Linked DNA regions of Homo sapiens. The protein of the gene in region 2 purifies or fractionates together with the protein of the main gene of each other region. This does not show direct contact. Each region holds a gene or a part of one and is shown on either strand. Other genes may lie near its edges.

Evidence for each region.
Region 1: the proteins of FLRT3 (region 2) and SLC6A9 fractionate together in Homo sapiens (co-fractionation; one large-scale study listed by BioGRID). This does not show direct contact.

Annotation. Positions count from the first base shown.
Region 1 is NC_000001.11:44,007,463-44,010,962, forward strand, and holds part of SLC6A9 (sodium- and chloride-dependent glycine transporter 1), read right to left. Parts: intron 3,421-3,500; coding exon 3,264-3,420; intron 2,635-3,263; coding exon 2,503-2,634; intron 1,162-2,502; coding exon 891-1,161; intron 1-890. UniProt on the Homo sapiens protein: Sodium- and chloride-dependent glycine transporter. Essential for regulating glycine concentrations at inhibitory glycinergic synapses.
Region 2 is NC_000020.11:14,334,813-14,338,941, forward strand, and holds the start of FLRT3 (leucine-rich repeat transmembrane protein FLRT3 precursor), read right to left. Parts: upstream 2,801-4,129; 5' UTR 2,592-2,800; intron 1-2,591. UniProt on the Homo sapiens protein: Functions in cell-cell adhesion, cell migration and axon guidance, exerting an attractive or repulsive role depending on its interaction partners. Plays a role in the spatial organization of brain neurons. Plays a role in vascular development in the retina.

The sequences.
Region 1 (3,500 bases), on a different chromosome or scaffold from region 2:
GTGGAGGGCACAGCAGGATGGCCTGAGACTCTGGTCTCTGTCGCCTCTGAACAAAATGTGCCAGGATGTCTTGATCACGGCACCCCCGGCTCAGAGACCTTCCATGGCGTCTTTTGTTCTGCATCATCAAGTCTAAGCCTAATCCTGGCAAGTTCTTTATGAAGGCAGTGCCACTTCCTAGGCCACCTGAAGCCCATGCATTCTCCCCACACCTGTTACTCTCATCAGAGTAGGCTCCCTTCAGCTTTGGGGCCAGCCTCTGCTCATCTGGGACAGAGCCTTTGCCCACACTCTTCTTCTCCCCAGGATCTGCCCCCCTTTCCCCTGAGTCTCCTCTGAAGGCTGGTTTGCTGGATTTCTGACGGCCTTCCTCACGGCTACTCTGTAAAGATCCTGCAACTCAACATTCCATCTTCCATTGCTTTCTTTCTTTTTTTTTTTTTTTTGAGATGGAGTCTTGCTCTGTCGCCCAGGCTGAAGTGCAGTGGCGCGATCTCAGCTCATTGCAAGCTCTGCCTCCCGGGTTCACGCCATTCTCCTGTGCCTGCCACCACGCCCGGCTAATTCTTTTCTCTTTTTGTATTTTTAGTAGAGACAGGGTTTCACCGTGTTAGCCAGGATGGTCTCGATCTCCTGACCTCGTGATCTGCCCGCCTCGGCCTCCCAAAGTGCTGGGATTACAGGCATGAGCCACCGTGCCCGGCCTCCATCTTCCATTGCTTTCTGTACATCAGGCTCTTCTCCTAAACTCTTCACTCACCTCTACCCTCTCCCAGCCCAGCAGCGGGCTGAACCTGCAGCAGGCACCCTACTTTGTCTTCAGATGGTTGCCCAGTGGGGACAGGGTTGCCACCAGGTTCCCCCCACCCCAGGTCCTGCAGGTGCCTCACCTCCAGTACTCCTCGCTGGGGCTGGTCCTCTGGAGGCTGTGGTTGAGCAGGTGGGAGAGGTTGCTGGGCAAGGCGGCTGGCCGAGAGCCATTGGTGAGGTTGGAGGCGTCCAGTACACCGGCGCAGTCATGCGTGTTCCAGGGGTTATTGCAGTAGGCCCAGGGCAGCACGTGCGTCATGGACGAGAAGAAGTAGTAGAAGGCGATGCAGATGACCACATTGTAGTAGATGCCGATGTAGGTGGACACCACCATCATACCATAGCCCACTCCTGCAGGAGGGGAGGGGTGGGGGGAGGAGCCTCAGCATCCAGCAGGAGGAGGTGAGGTTAATAATTTCTTTTTTTTCTTTTCTTTTCTTTTTTTTTTTTTGAGATGGAGTCTAGCTCTGTTGCCCAGGCTCTGACACCCAGGCTGGAGTGCAGTGGCGGAATCTTGGCTCACTGCAAGCTCCACCTCCTGGGTTCATGCCATTCTCCTGCCTCAACCTACCGAGTAGCTGGGACTACAGGCGCCCACCACCACGCCTGGCTAATTTTTTTGTATTTTTAGTAGAGACGGGGTTTCACTGTGTTAGCCAGGATGGTCTTGATCTCCTGACCTCGTGATCCGCCTGCCTCGGCCTCCCGAAGTGCTGGGATTACAGGCGTGAGCCACCGCGCCCGGCCTTTTTTTTTTTTTTTTTTTTTTTGAGACGGAGTTTTTGCTTTTCTTGCCCAGGCTGGAGTGCAATGGCGCGATCTCGGCTCACTGCAACCTCCGCCTCCCAGGTTCAAGCGATTCTCCTGCCTCAGCCTCCCGAGTAGCTGGGATTAGAGGCATGCGCCACCATATCTGGATAATTTTGTATTTTTAGTAGAGATGGGGTTTCCTTTTTTTTTTTTTTGACATGGAGTCTCCCTCTGTCGCCCAGGCTGGAGTGCTGTGGCATGATCTTGGCTCACTACAAGCTCTGCCTCCCGGGTTCACGCCATTCTCCCGCCTCAGCCCCCAGAGTAGCTAGGACTGCAGGCACCTGCCACCACACCAAGCTAATTTTGTTTTTGTATTTTTAGTAGAGACAGGGTTTCACCGTATTAGCCAGTATGGTCTTGATCTCCTGACCTTGTGATCCGCCTGCCTTGGCCTCCCAAAGTGCTGGGATTACAGGGGTAAGCCACCGCGCCCGGCCAAGATGGGGTTTCTCCATGTTGGTCAGGCTGGTCTCAAACTCCTGACCTCAGGTGATCTGCCTGCCTTGGCCTCCCAAAGTGCTGGGATTACAGGCGTGAGCCACTGTGCCTGGCCCGAGGTTAATAATTTCTAAGGGCCCAAGGGGCAGGCTGAGATGGAGGGCCAAAGGAAGGCCAGGTCAAGGTCTTGGTAGGGGTAAGTTGGCGGGGGGTGGCGCAAAGGAGTTTTGTGTGTACACGTGGTAGGAGGGGAGGGTGGCAGCCAAGTAAACATGGGTCCCAGCATGCATCCATGGCTTAGGCCGTTGATGTGGGGCTTGGGGTCAGCATCAGGGCTCTACAGAGGTCAGCCATGTTTGTACAGATGGGCGAGTTGGCACGGCCCTCAGAGGCCGTTGTGTGTTTGTGTATGTGTGAGCGAGTGCCCCGCCCAGGCCTCACCTTTGAACATGGGGCTGATCCTCCAGACCCCCAGGCACCCCTGGCTTGCAAACTGGCCGAAGGAGAGCTCCATGAAGAAGAGGGGGATCCCGCAGAAGATGAGCATGATGAAGTAGGGGAACATGAAGGCGCCTGGTAGGCAGGGAGAGGTCTGGCTCAGGAGTGGGCTTGGAGGGATCTCACCCTGGGCTTCCTGCTCAGAACTCAACAGCAAAACCTTCGCGATTGGGTAGGACCCAGGGAGGAGTGTGCCAGGCTTGAGCAGGAGCCTGGGCTGAGGCACACCACCCCCAGCCTGTCTTTCAACTTGACAGAGGCTCTCAGGAATTCTGCTTGGAGTGGAATCCAGGTCCCAGAGCCTCCATACTTGGGTGGGATTTGATGGTTTAAACAAGCGATTTCACAAGCATAAGTTGCTGAGATCCTCAACATCCCTGAACCATTTAGGGGGGCTGCTGAACCCCAGGGAATAGAACAGGGAGCCTTGTGGGCGGGGGGGGGGGGGGGTTAGGTCCTTTTCTCACCTCTCCTCACCTCAAAGGGGGCCAACTGGCAGGGCCAGCCCCCAACAACAGACTGCCAGGGTCTGGGGTGGCCTGCCTTAGGCAAAGGGTGCCTAAGCCAGGGATGGGGGCGAAGGAGGCCAGGGCCAGAGGCCAGCCTTTATCTGGAGTGGGTCTGTGCCAGGGAGAGGGTGGCCCAGGCCCTGGTGGGTGGGCTCTACCCAAGTGGGTGGTCCCTGCCCTGTGCCCACTGGGTACCTCCCCCGTTGCGATAGCAGAGGTATGGGAAGCGCCAGACATTGCCCAGGCCCACGGCATAGCCCACGCTCGTCAGTACAAACTCGATCTGGTTGCCCCAGTTGCCCCGTTTGAGGTTCTGGTCCCTCTTGGTGGCCTCGCTGGGCACAGCACCATTCTGTGGGGACAGGAGAGAAGCTACCATCAGCAAGGCATTTGTGCTCCATGCCTGACCCTCTGGGCCTCCCCCAGCAGGGA
Region 2 (4,129 bases):
ATGGGTTTGAATAAAAGAATATATAAGGGGATCTATTCAGAATTTTTAAGTTAGCTCTGGATTTTGCCATTAATCAATCACATTCTTTGTTATATAGCCCACCCACCTTAAAAAGAGGCATAGAAGTTAAGAAATGACTGAAATGGCAACTATAAACCAATACTTTTTCATTGACCAGATTTAATATTGGTATGAACATTGGCATATCAAAAATGAAAAGCAAGAAAGAAGAAACATTAATATATTATTAAGACAAGGCCAATTCCCTGCACTGATTTTTGTAGGGCTTAAAACTGTTCAAAATAATCCAGAAAAAGGAGGAAGCCTTAGGGTGTGTGGCCAAGAAAAGCACAGAAAAATCTCTCTGCAGTGCACTTGCATGTTTAAAGCTGATTATTGTATTTTTCATCTAGAGAGACTGAGTGTTCATTAGGGTCTTGTGTCCCTAGGCAGGAGATGCTGAGCATAATTGGAGTTTCTATTTGATTGGGCAATATAGTCTAGAGAAGAAACTGGGGTAAAGATAATTAATAGCTTGCTAACAAAGTCTGACAGCCACAAGATTTCAACCAAATTTATTTCACACTGCTTCATTTAGCTCTGAAAAAGTTTTGATAGAATTGTAGGCTCCTTAATTAACACTTGAAAGCAAAAGAAACATACCTTCTATTTTGCTGCCACATTTAGTTATGACAGATTTTCTTACTGTTTTTCTTCTTTTTGTAAAAACTTTATTTGCTATCCAATTATATATCTCACAAACGTTATGTTTGGGAAGTGTTTAATTGTGCATTTTGAACCCAGTCATAATTGATTTTAAAGGGTGGGGTGCAGCGAAATGAAAAACCCAATTAGTAACTGGTAGACAGTTTTACAGAACCGCAATATTAATGAATTCATTATGTTTATTCATTCACTAATATTTTGCTGATCCTTGGACTTGATGTGTTTTGGTTGTGCTCTTCAAAAAATCAAATTTTAGTTTTCTTAGTAAATCTATGCGTTTTTGTAACTCTGTTTTTATTTCAGGGTAATAAATAGATGTGCGTTTGTCTGTGTGTATATATATGTGTCCAAACTAAGGGGCATATCTCTGATTTAATTTTCCCATGGTAAAACCTGGCATATTATCATTAATATTTGTAGTAGTTGGTAATGTTGATATTATTGATTGTGGCACTTTTAAAGGATTAATTTTTCTTTACTCATTTCGGAAGAGATGAATATTAGTCATCTGTCACTTTGGGTCAGGTATAAGTGATTCTCCCTGAATATAAGCAAATTTATTCTTTATGTTTAGGCTGGTCAGGATATTTTTATGCAGTCAGAGATAAATGAAAGGCATTGCTACAGCTGAAGGACTTTTCTAGTGGCTTTATTTATGTTGTTTCTGGATAATAAAATAACATAGATGAGCATTTTAGACAGATTTATTAATAGACAGATTTATTAAGAATGTTTAAAATAGCCTTATTATTAAAACCATTAGAGATTTTGGACTAAAAATTGAAAAAAAAATCAATTTTTTTTCTTTTAAATTCTAAATAAAATAATAAAAACAAACCCCCCAGATGTTGAGAAGACATGGATGGGCCTGTTGCACTCTTTACCTATATGCAACCATTTTGTTTCAGACCTAATTCAGTGAACAAAATTTTTTGAGAAGATACATTTAACTACTTTTTCAAGCTTTGTAGTATAAATGCATTTCTTCCAATATAAGATTTTCCTATTATAAGTTGCAAAGAATGGATCCTCTGCAAAACCCACTTGATAAGGGCTCTACTCATTTATTTTTCTTTCCTGCTACCCCAAACTCACTGCATACATCAGGCATAGCTTCCAGGGTGAGCTTTGTTAGTTTTTCTGAGTAGACTTAGCCATTTACTATGCTAGTCACATACTTCACTTGCCTAAGCAATGGATTTTGGTGTTCTATTGAAGAGGGAATATGGTTTGGAAGAGTGTCTCCCCCTCCTCTGAGTTCAATTTACTAGTTGAGATTTGCAAGCCTGAAATGCTTGAAGCAGCTCAGGCACGATAGCAGTGCAAGCTTTAAAATCTAGGTGTAGCTGTTAATCCTTTACAGAGGCACATAAGTCTCCAGGAGTAGCTCGGCTAGCTGTGAGCAAGATGTATGCTTTTCATGTACTGCGTACTCATGGGCTGAGGGATTATTGATTTTCTTTCACAGTTGTAAAAACAGCAATTGGTGATCATCCCACACGTACAGTACACACCAAGTTGCTTTCCTATCTGTGAAGAATCTCCTTGTATTCTTTAATATTTAACATTGAACTTTCCAACTTGCTGTTTTCCATAAGGCTCTTTTCACATAGCAATTACTCAAGACAGAAAATAGCCACTTACTATCTTTTATAAATGAAAGAAGGTTCTAAGAAACTTCTTACATTCAGCCATGATAGTGAAATTTTTCATTGCTGGCTTGCACGCACATATATTGCTTGTTGTGGTGACAGAGCAAACGTTCCTATTTGGATTTCTCATAGTATCAAGTCGTTTCTTTCTAGAGAGTAAAACCAAGCAAACTTTCTGGGACAATCATAAGAAAAAACATGGAAAACACTTACCAGGAAGACGAGAAAAAGCAATCCTATATACACTGCCGCTATAGCTGTAATTCCATTGACAGTGAATTGGAGTAATAGCCCTCCCCCGTCTCCCAAGCTCTGCGTCCAGTCCACACAAAGCCCACGGCAGCTGCAGGCTGAGCTTGTCCTGCTTCAGATCACTCCTACACTGAGGAGTGAGCGAGGGAGAGCATTCCAGTTTACTGCACACAGCCCACCTCCAAGTCTGAAGTTTAAAGCTTCACCTCGCAGTGGCTGAAGAAGGGGGTGATGTCATAGATGGGCAGGACTTAGCCAAGATCTTGTTCAGTGAGGTAACTGGATAATCAGACAGATGAGCTTTGCAAACGCTAGAGGGGGCGAGAGCAGCCAAAATGAAGCATCAGCCTGCCAAAGCTAGGATGCCATTTGGTTTGTAGGCAGCCCTTTGGAATCTCAACATTTTCTAAAGTTTACTACAAGGCAGTGGTAGCATACTTATGTATTTTTTTTAAAAAGCATGTTAGAAAGATATTTTTAAGATCACAATAGAAAAAGACAGGCTTTGTCTTATTTTTAAACCATCTGTATTGAAAAGAAGTTAACCAAAATCAAATTAGTTTTATTATTCACTAGCTAAAATAATGTTATAATTGTGGAAGATGTATGCCAGTAATCCCAACTGTGAATGTTTATTCAACATATGAATAAACAGCAGATTCAAATATATACATCAGGGCTGGGTGTGGTGGCTCACGCCTCTAATTCCGGCACTTTGGGAGGCCGAGGTGGGAGGATCACCTGAGGTCAGGAGTTCGAGACCAGCCTGACCAACATGTAGAAAAAATTAGCTGGGCGCCCGTAATCCCAGCTGTTTGGGAGGCTGAGGCAGGAGAATCACTTGAACCCGGGAGGCAGAGGTTGCAGTGAGCCAAGATTGCACCATTGCACTCCAGCCTGGGCAACAAGAACGAAACTCCATCTCCAATATATGTATATATATACACGTGTCACTGATTCATTTAGTTATGGGAAGGGCAATAGGAATGCCAAAAGATTTTTTTAAATGGTATTAAATGGTCTGTTCTTTTGGAGGCGAAGAAGTTACTGTTCTCTATGTTTTAGAAAATGAAAGTATGTTTTATGTACTTCTGCTACGTGTTTATATTATTTAAAATGGATTATTTATATTTAACGATCCCCCAATAAAATGTTTTTAAAAAATTTAATAGAATATTTTCCTTTCTAAATGTTTTTGCTGATCTGAGCATGGGTTTAGATATAAACATCTTAAGAAAAAAATCTTTCAGGGTGGTTTGCCTGGATTGAAATTATTTTAGTTTAATTTAGGTACATGAATAAACACTGGACAATTGTAAGACGTGGAGATTATAAATTTCTATGCCTAATTAACAGAATTATACTTGTATTTTTAATTATGATTTTTGTAGACTGGTTTCTGCTATTTGGTCAACAATTGCTTTGTGCCCGTAAGTTTTCCATCAAATAAGTGTATTTCACTTGTTCATGTTGGTGGTAAGAACTTAGCTTTTATATTT